2 separate regions of the Homo sapiens genome follow, and region 1 is linked to region 2. Evidence: fine-mapped expression QTL. Tissue or cell type: whole blood. Region 2 holds a variant in brackets; the other region holds the start of a gene. All regions are shown on one strand. Distances are from middle to middle.

Region 1 (8,000 bases), 360 kb before region 2:
TTTACCATCTAAAGATATAGAACCTGTGCTGTGTCATCAAGCGGTTCTAATTTAGGTGGTGGATGGTAGTGAGCCTCACTATCACTAGTACAGGCAGCCTAGGAATCATCGATTCTGAGGCCTTACTGCTGAGTTCTCCTATGAGCACATTCAGGTGTATCTGCACAATATTTTTATGCATCTTTGGTTAGGTGAAAAGCATCAACCTAGGATAGTTCCTTTGAGCATTTTCAAAATAAGGTGTATTTTTGTGTGGAAGAGAGGCCATCCATGATCAGGAGTGTGACAAAAACCTGGCCCCAACTTTTCAGCCAAGTTCAAGAAAGTCAGGGGTCTGCAGCAGCCCAGGGCAGGACGGTGTCTAGGCTGCGCTTCCTGTTCTTAATTCCAAGTGTTGTTTGGTGACTTTGAATCGCCCTCTGTTGTCTTTTCAGATTCATAAAAAAGAGGCCTTGTACAATGGGGGCAGCAGTGTACCTGAAGGGGCCAAGAAAAATAATATGTGGCATCTTCATCTGTCACACCTTTTCTTACTCGAAGTGGAGCAAACTGGGGAAAAGGGGGGAATTTCAGTCATCCGGTTGAATGGCTAACAGTGTCTTTTTATTTTCAAAGCTAACTTAAAATGATACAAGTTTGCTCAAGGCCTCTGGTGGTATCAGCCGCCCCATACCCCTGGGGACTGTTAAATGTGTTTCCATTTATAGGTAGACTTTTCTTTTTTCTCCTTCTCCATCAAACATCTTAAGTTTCATGGGCTCTGTTAAGAAGTCAAAGAAAAAGTTGGAAGACAGTTTGTGGACTTTGCATATCTGGGCTTTCCGGGACGTAGGCCTGTGTCCCATCCAAGACACTGCTCACGTCTTAGCCTGATTACCTGGCCGCCTCGGCTCACCTGGGCACATGGTGAGCCGCGGAACTGGCAGGCACCAAACATTTATTGAATGAATAAACCGTATCCCAGCAGACACCATGGTGGCAGCAGATGACCTAACCAAGGTCCCAGGAAAGGCGGGCTGGGGTCAACTGCTTGAAAATTTAGTAACCCTGCTCCTAATCCCGTGCACTGCTATATCCTAGTGTGCGGCGGGACACTTGAGAGTTTTGAAAGAACCCTCAAACAAGTTCACGTTCCGTAAACTACTTTTCCCTCTGTTCCAGAGCCCCCAGGGCGCCCAGGCAAGGCCGCCACCTCTCCCACCTGGGAGGACGCCTCGAGCACCGACTCCACAGCCACGGCCACCGCTCCTCGGCTCCCGTGACACCGGCGCGCCTGCTGCTTCGAGCAGGGGAGGCTTTGCACTCCCATCGCACTTTTCTCGTCCGAAGATACGAAACTCCGTCCGGGCGTCGCAAATAATTCGAATTCGGCTCTCTGACACCTACCTCGGCGGGCGCGCGCCGCTGGGAGGGCGGGGTGGGTGGCTGGAGGTAAGGAGGCGCACAGCAGGGGTAAGCGCCGCCGTCGCACACTTTGCACGCCGCCCAGGGCTACACCACTCACCGAAAATTGGGAGGCAGGTCTGGGAGGCGGGGTTGAGCGCCCACCGCCTTGGGCGCGCCCGCGCCCCCCGCCATCGCGGCCCCCGCGCCCCCGGCCCACGCCCGCGCGGTCCCGGCACCGGCCTGCACCCCCAGGGTGCGCGGCGGCCCATTTGGGTGCGTCCCCGGTGGGCCGATTTTTCGCGCTTCCCCTTCGGTTTATAGGGGCCGCTGCTATGGGTCGGTCCTCTGAAGAGGCTGGGGCGTCATCGGGGCCGGTTAGAAGCTCTGCTCCCCGGCGGGGACACTCAGTCGCGTCGGCACCGCGGAGCGGGCTGCGTCAGGTGGCTGGCCGGCGCGGCGCTCCCCTGCTCTCTGGCTCCGGGCTGCGGCGCGGCGGCTGGAGCGAGCCCCTGTCCCGGCGCGGGGCGGCGGCGGGCGGCCGGCAGGCGCTGCCTTGCGTGTGAGTGCACCTCACTCACATGTAAGTCGGGGAGCGCCGGGGCCTCCCGCGGAAGTGCGAGTCGCCCGGCGCAGGCAAGAGCCGCCGGGTCCGGGACAAGGCAGGGGCGCCCGGGCGCCGCTGCCTTGCCCCGGGGCGCCTCCGGGCACCCCCCAATTCTCTCTCTTTTCTCTTCTCCATTGGCGTGCCCAAGAGCCAAACCAAGGAGCGCCTGAGGGTAAACAGACTCCTGCCATCCGCGCCTTTGCACTTTTCTTTTTGAGTTGACATTTCTTGGTGCTTTTTGGTTTCTCGCTGTTGTTGGGTGCTTTTTGGTTTGTTCTTGTCCCTTTTTCGTTTGCTCATCCTTTTTGGCGCTAACTCTTAGGCAGCCAGCCCAGCAGCCCGAAGCCCGGGCAGCCGCGCTCCGCGGCCCCGGGGCAGCGCGGCGGGAACCGCAGCCAAGCCCCCCGACACGGGGCGCACGGGGGCCGGGCAGCCCGAGGCCGGGGGCAAGCAGGGAGCCCGGGCCAGGCGCGAGCCGAGCTCCCCGAGGTGGCCGGGCCACCATGCTGAAGATGGCCATGAAGCTCAAAGCCCGGGCGGCGGAGAGCGAGAAGAAGACGGCCGCGGCGGCTGCCGAGGTGGCTGCCGAAGCTGCGGCGGCGGCTGCGGCGTTGGCCGAGCCGAGAGAGCCGCTCGCGCCGCGGAAGAGCGGGGACCCCGAGAAGCTCGCGAAGAACCCCAAGAACCCGGCGCGGGAGGCGCTCCCCGAAAAGTTCCTAACAGACAAGGAGCGCAAGAAGCTCGAGAAGAAGCTGCTGGAGCAGAGGCGAAAGGAGGAGAAGAAGAAGGAGAAGGAGAGGAAGAAGATGGAGAAGATGCTGAAGAAGAAGAAGAAGAAGGTGCCAGAAGCCCAGGAGGAGGCCCGATGCCCCGAGGCCGCCGCCGCCGCGGCCGCCGCCGACGACGACGAGGGCGCCGAGGAGGGCGCCGTCGGGGGCGCCGAGGAGGGCGCCGCCGCCGGGGGCACGAGTAGGGCCTGGGCTGACTGGGACACGGACTCGAGCGACGAGGACGACGCCTACTACGCGGCGCCGCGCGTTGGGGGCATCGTGTGGCGGCCCGGGCCGCTCAAGGCTGGCGCGCTGAGCGCCCACCTGCCCCTCGTGGTGTTCCTGGTCTTCTCGGTGCGCAGCCCCTCGTGGGTGCTCAACTTCCTGCTGCAGAAGCGCACGGAGCAGGGCCGCGGCTGCGGCTTCGTGTTCGGGGCGACCTGCTGCTTCCGAGTGTTCCTGGGCTGCGCCTTCTTCTCCTACTTGGGCGGCCGCGCCAAGCGCAGAGGCCGCGGGCGCTCCGGGGCCAGAGGCGCCTTCGGCTCGGGCCATGGCGCCCGGCGCCGGGGGCGCGAGGAGCGGCTCATCTAGTCAGACCCCCCACCCCGCCACCGCCACCAGACACCACCATCGCTGTGTAGTGTGGGTTTTTATTCGTGTTCGTGTGTGTGTGTGGACACATTTTCCTTTTCGGTTGCTCTGTCCTTTGGTTCGTGCTCGCCTCGCTTTTTCCACACTCCTGCTCTCTGGCTCTCTGTGTCTCTCGCTCTTTCGAAAATTTTCCTAAGTCCGGGCGCGCGCTCCCTCCCCTTCCGCCCACCCCAGCCCCTCGGCGGCGCCCGCGGGAGGGGGAGGAGGCCTCGGGGGCGCCGGGCGACGCGGTCCGGGGGGTGGAGCGTTGGCGTCGTGCGAGGGGTCGTCACTGGCGCGGAGACGCCCCCTCTCCCCCCTCGGCTCAGCCGGGCTGCTGCCCGAGCCCGGGGGGTGGGGGGCGTCTCCCCGGCCCGTCCCGTCCCCGGCCGGGCGCGGGCGGAGGGACCCCCTCCCCGGGCTCCCGGGGGGCCGCCTCCCTCCGCCGGCTCCCGCCCTCCCAGCCGCCGCCGCCGCCGCGGCCGCTCCTCGGCCCTCCTCCTCCTCCTCCTCCTTCCACCCCCCTCGCCGCCGCCGCCTCCTCCTCCCCCCGCCTCCCCCCGCCCGCCGCGGCGCTTTTGGCTCGGGGCGGCGGCGGGGGCCCGGCCGAGGCAATAAGAGCGGCGGCGGCGGCAGCGGCGGCAGCAGCTCCCGCAGCTCCTGCTCTGGTCCGCCTCGGCCCGGCGGCGGCCATCAGCCCCCTCGGCCTCGGCTCGAGGGGCGGGGAGCTGCGCGCGCCCCTCGGTCCGACCGACACCCTCCCCTTCCCGCCCGTCCGCGCGCCCCGCGGCCCGCGGCCCGCAGTCCGCCCCGCGCGCTCCTTGCCGAGGAGCCGAGCCCGCGCCCGGCCCGCCCGCCCGGCGCTGCCCCGGCCCTCCCGGCCCGCGTGAGGCCGCCCGCGCCCGCCGCCGCCGCAGCCCGGCCGCGCCCCGCCGCCGCCGCCGCCGCCATGGGCTGCCTCGGGAACAGTAAGACCGAGGACCAGCGCAACGAGGAGAAGGCGCAGCGTGAGGCCAACAAAAAGATCGAGAAGCAGCTGCAGAAGGACAAGCAGGTCTACCGGGCCACGCACCGCCTGCTGCTGCTGGGTAAGGGCGGGCGGGGGGCGCCGGCCCCGGCCCGGGGGCCCTCGAAGGGCGCCCCGCAGGCCGCGCGCGCCGAGCCCGCCCCCCGCCCCGGGCGCGCGCTCCCGAGCCCCCCGCCCGTTCGCGGGCTCTGTCTGTGGGGGGCGAGGCCGGAAGGGGGACCCAGGGGCGCGGATTCGGCCGGGCGGGGGCTCAAAAACGGGGCGGGGGGCCGTGGCGACGCGGGCGCGGGTCCCCCTCCCCCGGCCTGCCCGCTCAGTGTCTCTCTCTTGCTCTCGCTCTCGCTCTCCCCCTCTTTCTCTCTTTCTCTCTTTTTCCGCGAGGCCTACACGACGCCAGGGGTTTGGGTGCGTGTTGGGGAGGGGGAGGGGGAGCCCATGGGGCTCCGGAGACTGCGACAAAAAGAGGGTTTCGGGGACAGGAAACCGGGTGGCGGGTAGAGGGAGGGGGACCCGCCTCCGTGGGGTGTGAGATTTGTTGGGAGAGGGAAAGAGGGGAAGAAAGGGGCGAGGAGAGGAGGGGGTGACGCTGGGGGGCGCCGTGGTGGCGGAGGGGGCCTCGCCAAAGGGAGGCTTTGGCGGGGAGAAGTGGCCGAGGAGAGTGGGGGGGCTGGTGACATCAGCCCCTCGGAAAGGATCGGAGCGGTAAAGGTGGTGCAGTGGGGGGGAGGGGGCGCAAGGGAGTCGTGGCGCCGGAGTCGGGAGGGGGGCGGCGAGGGGAGGAGGGAGGGCGGTTGCCGCTGGGCGCGACTTGGTGCGTTTCGGGCAGGACCGACTGACTGTGTGTGCGCGGAGCAGACGTGTCCCGGGCCAGGCCGGGCCGTGGAAGGAGGAGAAGGAGAGTCAAATAAAATAAGACCACCCCCCAACACCAAAAAATGGATAGAGTTAGTACGAGAAGTGCCCAGTGAAGCCAAATGACACGTCATTTTACAGTGTGACCTTTTTTTCCCCTTCCAGACTTGCAGGCTTTTTCAAAAGCAGAGCGGAGAATTAATTGTAGCAGCTGCCCCCCCCACCCACCACGAGCAGCGCCCCCCCAACACTATTTTAATAAACCATTAAAAAAAACACATTTTCCTGCTGGCTGGCCACATTGAGAGTGCTTTGTGAAAAGAAAAAACAAAGACATTCACAAATCAGATAAAACTGGAGAATGACATTTGTCTGTAAATGGCTTCTTGGTCTGGAAATGGCGTGGTTTCTTTTTTTTTTTTTTTTTTTTTTTGTCCTCCTCAAGGTGGGAGGGGGGATTGAGAGTGCTCTAAGGAGACTTTTCCTCCAGGTGGGAAGAGATAAAAAGACATTAATTAGTTGTTTATCAAGTGACATTTAGTTGTTTGGTTTTGGGTTTTCTTTTTTTGATTGCGATTTTTCCTCTGATTAAAAAAATAATAATAAAATAAAAAAAGGTTAACTATAAGGAGATGGCCTTTCCTCCTTTTTTTTCTTAAGGTGCTGTTTTGGGGGAAAAAAATGTAATGAAATGACCAAAAGAATTACACAGCATTAATTAAAAATGGAAGTTTTCCACTTCCTTGATAATTTGGCTATCTGAATAAATTTGTGAATTTGCTAGGTTAAGACCTAGTTCGTGGTCACATTTCAACAAAACAGCTTGAGTATAAAGAAAATAATAAAAGGCTGTTCTTATTTATTTTCCTTTGGTGGCTTTTGGTTTGCTCTTTTTGCATAGGTCATGACTTTGTTCTCCTGGGTCCAGATTTATAAAAGCAGAAAATTACTAATTAAGTCAAAATAAGTGTCTTTGGTGTTTATGCATTTGCAATTTCAGTAATTAAATGGTACATGTGTTGCTGTCTTGTCTAAAACTTTTAAAGGCAGAATTATGCTGTTGGGATATTAGTATGCGTATAACTTGATTTCAAAGTATAAATCTGGAAAAGTCTAGAATCTTTTCTGTGAATGCTATCTCAGTACTACTTTAAGTCAAGTGTGATGCTAATGATATCTTAAAATTTCCAACACCTTTTGTGCAGTGATCACAAAGTCTCCACTTAATTTGAGACTGTTACTCAGAACACGCCTTGCGTCACGGGGGCTAATCTAAGTGTCCTAGTCTATATGACTACATTACATCATGATGTATTGATTGCCTCTGGCCTAGGAATCTGCAGCTTAAGCCAGTGACACAATATTTTGCATTTTTAAATGGTGATTCTCACCAAATAATGCCTCCCCACAAAAGAGGAAACCTAATAATGCCCCAAATCCTCTTTTTACTCCATCTTAATGACATAAAAATTAAGTGAATTAGAGAACTACAATGATCTTAAAATAATTTTTCAGCCACATTTCATAAATGTGGAAACTGAGGCACGGATCTGTTTTTGCCTATGAAAGATAGGTCCTGTAACTGTTACACAGTTTAACACTTCTGAAATTAGAATATTAGAGATCCTGCTAAATATTACGTATTGTTTCCTTGGCCTCTCTTAATAGTGCCATTTATATTTTTAATTTACCAGAGTTAGGCTCATTAAGATAGTGTTTGCTTTGAAATCAATGTTTCTGTGGAAACTAATTTTAACTTTTACAGATATTGATTACGGGCTTGTGAAAAGGCAAGTAAAGGAGGAATGCTGTGCTATCTGGGCATTAAAACAAAACAATACAATTAAAAGTTAAAAAGAAAGAAAAAGGTAATAACAGATTTGTGTGGAAGGAGGGCAAAAAAACTTCACACGTGGATTATCTGTTGGAGAATGTGCATTGCAAAAAAGATGCAAAATAGCAATCCTCCCTCTAGCTTGATGGAAATGTGTTTTTTCCATGAAACATATATGTATTTTTACAAATGAAAGATGATTTAAAATGGAGGCATGTGTTTCTACTCTTTGAGTTGGGAAGGGCTTGGAATCTTTCAAATTCAGTACTTCCCAGGGATAGTTTTCCTTTTGATTAAAGTTTTGTTCTTATGTTACTTTTTACTGTTGTTTTTGCAGTTTACCTAATGCTAATAGGGTCTCAGGAACTGTATTTGATGTTAAAGTGTGGTTTTTCCAGAAGATGACAGATAATTGATGGTCTCCCCTTTTCCTCAGCAACATAGTTGTACCCAGAGGGAATTTATCTTTAGAAAGATATAGTTTGTGAGGAAAGAGGAGGATGGATAAGTGGATAAAATGTAATGCAGTTTTAGGGGTGGATTTTTAAGTAGCCCAAGGGGTAGGAAACCTGCACAGAAAGAAGCTGCGTTGTGAAAATGTTGAGGAGGAAAGTGCTGCATCGCTACGTGATGTGGAAGAGACTGCAGTGTCTGGGCATTGTTGGGAATCCCGGGTATTTTAACCATGAAACATCTGACAACAAATTATGTGTCTAGATATGTTTATGTGTGAATGTTCATGTATCAGGGATTCAGTTTCACAGTTTTAACTTCAATTTTCTTGTTTACCCCACAAATGACAAAATTGCGTCATTCCTTCTCTTTGCCCCTTTCCAACACCACCCCACAATTTTTTAAACAATCAAAAGAAAAATTAAAACCAGCAAACCTTAAATT
Region 2 (8,260 bases):
TCTCTTCTCTAATTTTGACTCCAGAATGCCGGCAGCCTGGCTTCTATTTTCCAGTCAGGAGACCCGAGGACTCTTCTTGTAGAAGCTGACCAGTACACGTGGAGACCTGCAGATAACTACTTCAGGGTTCCCACTGAAACAGGGCAACCACATAACCTAACAGTAGGGCCCATGGTTGACAGATTGCACTTGTAAAGAACACCAAGTCAGCTTTTTTGTGCCCATTTCCTAAACATAAGCAGCGAAGATTGCTGTATTTCTCAGGAAAGCCACCAACCTAAAGAGAGAAATAAAAACAAACCAATGGAAACAAAGGAACTTGGAAGAGGGACTATGTAGGGGGAGGCAAACTTCAACAACGACAACAACAACAACCCATTATTAACATTGCCGGGGGTAAAAGAGAGGATGTTAGAGCTATGAAGTAAGAACAGGATGCTATAAAAAAAGAACATGGGAAAGAACTCTTAGAAATTAAAAGCATAATAGCAGAAATAGAAACTCATTGGAATATAAAGTTGAGGAAATTCCCCCAAAAGTGAAGCAAAAAGACCAAGAAACAGAACATCACAGCGAAAAGATAAGAAAAATAGAAGATTATACTAGGAGATCCAATAACCCAATAAGGGCAATTCTAGAAAGAGAGAGAAGACAAAACAGAAGGGAAAAAAAATCAGAAATAACAGGTAAGTTCAAGAGTTATATTGTACAACATGGTAACTATAGTTAATGACAATGTTTTGTATTCTTAAAAATTGCTGAGAGTATAAGTGTTCTTGCCAAAAAAAGATAAGCCTATGGGCTAATACATATGTTATTAATAATCTAATTTAGCCAACCTACAATGTGTGTATATTTCAAAACAATGCATTGTACATGAGGAAGGAAAAGGAAAAAAGAAAAACAGAACCACATTTTTCTAAAACCTGAGGACATGATTCAGATTGAAAGAATTGATTGAGTGCCCAGCCAATGAATGAAGATCGACCCAGGCTGTGGTGACACCAGAAATAAAGAAGAGCCTCGGGGATTCCAGAGAACGACATACAAAAAGATTTCATCCAAAGGACCATGAATCATAAATCATATTGTCTCCAGACTTTTCAACAACTGGAACGCAATAGAGCCGTGTCTGCAACCCCAAAGGGAAATGATTTCCGATTTTGAATGTCATACCCAGCCAAGCTGCCAATGACATCTAAAGAGTTATACTTCATGTACCCTTTCTCATGAAACTACTAGAAGTTTTGTGTTAGGAAAGCAGGAGTGTAAACCAAGAAAAAAGAAGTTGTAGAGGTTCAGGAACCAGGAAAGAGGCGAAGAGAATCAGCACAGCGGGGATGAAGGGAGACCCCAGGGGCACAGCCATGCTGCAGAGAAACATGGTCCACTTGGAGCAAATCAGAAAGTTTCAAGGAAACATTTCTCACAGAATGAAATGAAACCTCAGACAATTGGAGAGGTGGTTGGAAAATGATTTTAGAAATGAGTCCATAGAAAACTCAGCAAAATTTTTAAAAAGCAAAATCGTCATTAATCCCAGGGAAAGCAGTTTTCACAAGAAAGGCAACGTAATCGTAGTATACTACAAGATTCAGTGCTGACAGGTATTCTCCTAAACATACTAATATAAACATGGAATATTCGCCTAAATGAAAACAGGCCATAGGGGTTAGAGAACTGTTGAGAAGATAGAGAGGTGGAATGTGTGCTTGTGTGGGGGGTCATGAAGTTTGAAGAGGAGGAGAGCTGGAAGAAGAGGGAAACCCTCCTCTCTCCCCATGAGAAGTCACAGCTACTACTTCCACAAAATGTAGTTCTATAACAATGTTATCAGACATGAAGGAGCTAAAAGTCAAAAGACTCCCGAATGGGAAAAGATGGATGGGTTGGCAGGGGTTGCAGTTTTTCTTAATACACAGTTAGGCTTGACTTTTCAGACTGCACATGTGTACCTTTCATCAAAATAAAAGCAAATTTAAAAGTGGGTCTAGTGCTTCTTCTCTAGTGACACAGTCGTTTTAAGATATTTCTCTGATCTCATATCATGATGGAACCTGCCCTCTCTGAAATTTTGTGATCCTTTTGACTGGTATGCCAGGTCATCAGTGCGGGTGAAGGATGAAGGAAAGACAGGTATGAGAAGTGCTGTTTTGTGGATATTGTCAGGGCCCTTCTTTCCTTCCACAATCACAACAATAACCACCACAACAAAACAACAGCATCACAAAAGCCAACCTCATCCCTTGCTGCCCAGCACTCTAGTGGGAATTAAGACCTGGTTTATATTTCTGGGTTCCCACCATGCATCGAGTGAAACGTCTATTCTGACTACTTGGTAGTATGTCAGAGAATTCAAGCTGATCTAAAATTTACCTAAACAGACATGACCAGGAATACAACTCTGATGAGAAGAAGCAACATGAAATATAGATATATTTTATGATATGTATCATTCAGGGGTTTTTCTACTTTGAGAATTGGTTTTGCCATTTCCTTCCTTCATAGAGTGGATATATTTTATTTGACCAAATGTGAATTGGTTGGAGATAAATTGAGTTCTTGCACACACCCTGTGAGATGAGGGTTAATGAGCTCAGAGGCGATCAAGAAGTCATGGACAACCTCCCAGGAAATTACTCTTTGCTAATTTTATAATTCCAGTCATATGTAAATGTGCCTCTCCCCTTGCAGGTCTGAATCTGCAAGAGGAGCCATCTTGTGCCACCTCAGAATCACCTCCTTGTTGTGGGAAGGAAGAGAAGAAGGAAGGTGACTGCAGACAAACCTTAGGAACCCTCTCTCTTGGTACAAGTTCAAGAATTGTCAGGGAAATGGACAAACGAACTGTGAAGGTGGGCATGATGATTTTGAGCTGCCTCTACCTATTCCTGGTCTAGATGTATAGCCCTGCTTGTTCTTGCTGCTCTTGTTCAGTGTGGCAGAACTTGCTCGGATCACCTTATGAAGATTCGTGGCACAGAAAGCCCATTAAGACAAACAAATAACTCAAAACATTCTGTATCGAATGAGTAGCTTTGGTAGTGCAAACATTGGGATGATTTCTGATGGTTTCTTTAAAAAAAACCCCAAGTATGTTATTACTGCACACCTGAATAGAGAGATGGCTGACAGATGCCACTGCAACATGAAGCCCCCCCAGACAGACTGTGGGGCTGCGTGTTGAAAACCACTAAAATATGTATCCAGACCACATTTGGAAAAACACTCATCCGGAAAAAAC[C/A]AAAAAACCAAAAAACCCTTCAATACACAGTCCTATAAAATAGTACATCCGCTTCATGAGCGGTAGTGACTTAAAAAAGGAAGCTGAGAACTGGTAAGATAATTGAGTGGTTTTGTTTTTCACAAAGCCAGATAAAAGCACAGGACGTCAGCAACCTATTTTGTATCAATCAGGAGCTTTATTCGAGTTAATGCACCAATTAGTTATTAATGGAAACTTATTGAGGGCGTCATATTGAAGTTCACCCTTGGTAAAGAATCATTAAGACCTCAAGACCTGTTTTCATTGAGGACCACGTTTCTGACCACATTTTTCTTTGTACCAATTAACCTCCCCCCCCACTTTTTTTTTCCTTTGCACTTTGTTGCAGGATATTTCTCCATCTGCTGGTGAGCATGGTGACTGTACTACTCACAGCACTGCTGCCACATCAGGATTATCTCTGCAATCTGACACCTGCCTGGCAGTGGTTAATGACGTGCCTCTACCCCCTGGCAAAGGTCTTGACCTTGGGTTGCTGGAGACTCAGCTGCTGGCCTCCCAGGATTCAGTCTCAACAGATCCCAAACCATACATCTTCTCAGATGCTCAAAGGCCTTCTTCCTTTGGGTCCAAAGGAACTTTTCCCCACCATGACATTGCTACCTCTGTGGCTGCCGTTTGTATTTCTCTGCCAGTGAGAACAGATCACATAGCCCAGGAAATTCACAGTGCTGAATCACGAGACCACAGCCAGACTGCAGGGAGGACTCTGACATCAAGCTCCCCAGACAGCAAAGTCACAGAAGAGGGCAGAGCACAGACCCTCTTGCCAGGGAGACCTTCATCTGGACAAAGAATTTCAGATTCGGTTCCACTGGAGTCAACTGAAAAAACTCATCTTGAAATACCAGCTTCAGGACCAAGTTCAGCTAGTTCACACCACAAGGAAGGGAGACACAAGACGTTTTTTCCTTCCAGAGGCCAGTATGGGTGTGGGGAAATGACTGTCCCCTGCCCCTCTTTAGGAAGTGACGGTAGGAAACGTCAGGTATCTGGATTAATCACTCGGAAAGATTCTGTGGTTCCTTCTAAGCCAGAGCAGCCCATAGAAATTCCTGAAGCCCCTTCTAAATCCCTCAAGAAGAGGAGTCTGGAAGGAATGAGAAAGCAAACTCGAGTAGAGTTCAGTGACACCAGCAGCGACGATGAAGACCGATTAGTTATAGAAATATGAAGCTTCCAGAGAAACATGGTGTCTGGTCAAAAAGACTGTTGACGCTTCACAAGTAAATGTTGTCAGGCTGGCGGAAGAACTAAACTCTATCTGTGAAACACCTACAGATTAGGAAAGCCATTTTGAGTTATTTACAAGCCAACTCCAACCAACTTCTGACCCCCAACTCAGCCGCAGCGTTCCCCAGCTCCCCTTGGGAGTGCTCTGCTCATCTTCAAATGGTGCCAGGCAGGGCAGACATGGCAAGGAAGCAAACTCTGCAAATGGTCAACGTGCACAGTGACTGGGCCTTGACTCCCAGCCTCGTCTTCTGCACCTGTCCCCCACTGCCTCTCTGCAATCAAATGGCACTAACCAAGAAAGCCACCATCAACACATTTCTCCACAAGTGGACCCCACACAGTCGAGGCAACTGGCTTTCTCCATTAGTAAACTGAGGATTTGCTTCCAAGGTGGAGAGCACACTTGGGATAATTGGAGTAGCTTGACAAAGAGACGGGGGTGTGAACTGGGCACAAAGATACTTCTGTTCATTTTGGAGACAAAATTCAGATACATTAAAAAACTGAAGCTTGTTCAGAGTAATTCACGTCCTTGGTGGAGTTGTAAATACACTTCAAAATGCCTATGATCCGGTGACATGCTGATTACTTTTAAATGTTGCACAAATGGTCAATGCTTATTTATGGTCAGATGATGCAAGCACATGCTCTTGTGCCTGGTGCGTTTGCTGTGGAGATCTCTGAGACTGTCGGTTTTTCTAGTTCTTGCAAAGGAACGGTGTTAAAAGTTAATAGAACTGTCTCTCTGTAATGAGTCATTTTTTGAGAGGGAAAAATTCACTTATTTTCCTCTGATTCTTCTTGTCATATTGTGCTCTGAGCAATTTCAATTAGAGGGTTACATTTTAGTAATCTGTACAGCTTCAACTGATGCCTGCTCGTCGTGACGGGAGCCTTTTAGATTTCCTTCAGAAGCTTCAAGGATACAAAACTAATTGGAGTTTTGACGCTGTTTTACATCTCGGTAATTTTATTTTCGGGGCTTAGTGTTACTTTGCTGTCAAATTAAATCAGCCTCTGTATTGTGCACGTCAGAACTGCACAGAGAAAATTCCCCAGTATTCCAAGCCGGTGCGCCCCTGTGCAGAAGAAAACAGATCTACGTCAGCCAGCCCGGGGGGCAAAGCCTCAGTTCCACTGCCTTCCTCTCCCTCTCCTTCCACGGGAGAGGAGAAACTTAAAGAGGTTTACATTGCTGCATTTCAATAAAATTTTATACTTGCTTTTGGTATGATTTTGTACAATTTGAAATTTGTAGCTGAGCTCTTTTGGTGTAACTTTGATGTAATGATGTTCATATGACATCTTGTACTTCAGAGACACAGCAGCAATGCAGAGCATCTCACACATGTGAATACACTTCAGTCAGTCTGTGCCTGTGACTAAGTATGGTCAAATTTCAAGTATCTTCATGTGAATTTTCCAATTTTGGTGTTTTTCATAGAAAACTTCAATGCCAGACCAGCTTCCCTGGTTACTTAGCATATATTTGTGACCATTTCATATGCACTCATAAATATCCAAGGATTTCAGGCCCAGCCAAGAAAAACATAAGAAGGGAGGTAAAAAGGATGTTGGACATTGACTTAGTGTACTTTTTAAACCCAACAAAAGCGATGTGGTGATTATCTCCCTTTTCGAAGGATTCATGCCACTGTAATGAGAGAGGCAGTGTAGGCAAATGGTCTGAGCCTTGGATGGAGATTGAAGTCCTGACTTTAGCTGGGAAATCTTGGTTAAGAGTCTTTCTGTACCTTAGTTTCCCTAAGTGAGAATAAGAGAGTTGGACAAGACGAATGTATCTCCAGGTTCCAATTTTTCTGAGAATGGTTGATAGAGAAGCTGCTCTCTCCTTAAAATGCATGGACTCAATGGCTTGAAGATATTCCCCATGGGGAACCATTGCCACGGAGGCCTTGCATGCAAGAAGTTTGGGTGGGGACAGTGAGGAACTGAAACACAAGCACCTTCCACCAATTATTGCTGTGAAGAACCTGAGCCTGAAGAAGCTCCATCTAATTTTTTCCCCAGAGTTCCAGATTTTAGGGTGCAATCATCCAGCCTATACATGTGGCTCATAGTTCAAAAAATTAAAAGCAAAACCAGAACTCTCCAGTAGGAATGGAGAAAACCTATCTGTAGGCTGAACTGGCTCCTTTGTCTTAGGAGGCACTGGTCAGGGGAAAAAAGCTGTCTTCCAGACCCCTCCTTTCTGGGTGGCTACTGTGGAATCAACGGGGTCACTGGCTGTAAATCAGTAAGTCATAGCTCCAAACAGCACCAACTTCAGGATGATGGTGGAAGCTCTGTCCCTATAGGAGCCACCGTTGCCAGCTGTCACATCCCAACCTAGGTCAAATATGGCGGAATATTGATTTCGTCTCTAACTCCCTGTATCTCTTACAAAGGTAAAGCAGGTAGCGAAGCCACCTTGCTTCCCTGGTCTTTGCCTAGTGGCTGGCAATGTTTACAAGTGTACCTTACTTTATATCAACATGAATTTGTGAAAAAGCTGTATGTCAATGGATTTTTTAAAAATTAAAAATGTATTTTGAATGACCCTAAGGGAGCTGGCTCTTTAAAAGCATCCTAAGGTAAAGATTTTTTTTAAATGAAGAATCTTTTTATAAAGCAATGAACAATCTCTGATTTTATAAATCTTAATTTTCCTATGGGTTTTCTTAAAGTGAAATACAATTATAAGAATACATTTTAAGGGTAACATTAACAACCTAGAACCCAGTTTGGGTTACTAAAAATAAAATGTCAGTATTATCAATTGATAACTACCACAGTTTTATACTCTGCAAGTGTGTACTGCATGATGGTTAAGGAAAAACAAATTTATTTTAGAACAAAGCAAACCAGAGTTTAAAGATCAGGGATTTCCTTCTTTCCCCAGTGCTAATTTTCCCAGTGTTAATTTTATTATATCTTTAGGTAAGGGTCTTAACCAACTGATGCCTCAGTTTCTTCCACAGAGAATAGTTAGAGGGATGCTGTCATGAACTAAGGGAAGGGCACTGAATTTTTTTTTGCCAATATCAAAAGTGACATTTCCCCATGATGTTCAAGACTCACCAGGTTTCTCTCTCCACCTGTACCTACACCCAGCTAGATCTTGTCGTTAAAGATGTATGGAGGGAAGAGGTTTCAATCCTTCCCTCCTTGGCAACCTACATTGTTAAGTGACTCAAAGTCATGTGATTTTTGGTGGACAACTGGAATCCTCCTTCTTGTAAAACACATTGAAAAACAGCTCATCTCTCCTGTTAGGCTTAACCCTTGAGATTTGAGACAAAGCTAATAATCCCCTTTGGTTCACATCTCACAGTAACCAGGAGAACCTATGGTTCATTTGCCAAGTGATTAAAAAAAAAGATGGAGGAGGGTGTCTCTGAATTTTAATGGAAACACTGCCAATAGCATGGTGGGTAACCTAGGGCAAGACAGACTTTTTCTTCCTGAAATCACTCTTCTAAAGCTGAGACCGGAAGAGGAACCTTGCAGAAGTGCACTGTGACCACAGTTCTTGGCATGAAAGATAAACAATTTGCAGTCTCATGCCAAAAAGTATTTCCTTGCATTTACATTCATTACTTAGAATGATCACATTATTCATTTTTTTCCCCAGCACAGAAATTTGCATTTTGCACAGAATTTGCCTGGTGCAGCAGATCTTTATAGTTATGGAAACTGTCATCATTATCGGAATGTGCTGCTGCTCAACTCCCCAGA

The links. PIP is the estimated chance that this variant, and not a neighbour inherited with it, causes the effect.
Region 1: it holds the start of GNAS, and the variant in region 2 is fine-mapped to the expression of GNAS in whole blood (TOPMed, PIP 0.97).

What each region holds. Positions count from the first base shown.
Region 1 is chr20:58,887,388-58,895,387 of GRCh38, forward strand. It overlaps GNAS (GNAS complex locus), which reads left to right and starts at 4,034. Exons shown (of 13, transcript NM_000516.7): 1 at 4,034-4,478. The coding sequence starts at 4,340. LOC101927932 (a long non-coding RNA gene) reads right to left here and starts at 1,423. Exons shown (of 5, transcript NR_126334.1): 1 at 1,387-1,423. RefSeq lists enhancers at 1,152-1,371, 7,996-8,000 and silencers at 1,812-2,091, 3,292-3,441, 3,502-4,001, 4,012-4,231, 5,102-5,191.
Region 2 is chr20:59,250,284-59,258,543 of GRCh38, forward strand. It overlaps ZNF831 (zinc finger protein 831), which reads left to right. Exons shown (of 6, transcript NM_178457.3): 5 at 2,695-2,855; 6 at 3,615-8,260. The coding sequence ends at 4,460. Among named protein-coding and RNA genes, the nearest start is that of EDN3, 46 kb to the right of the region's middle. The variant C/A (reference allele first, on the strand shown) is at 3,245.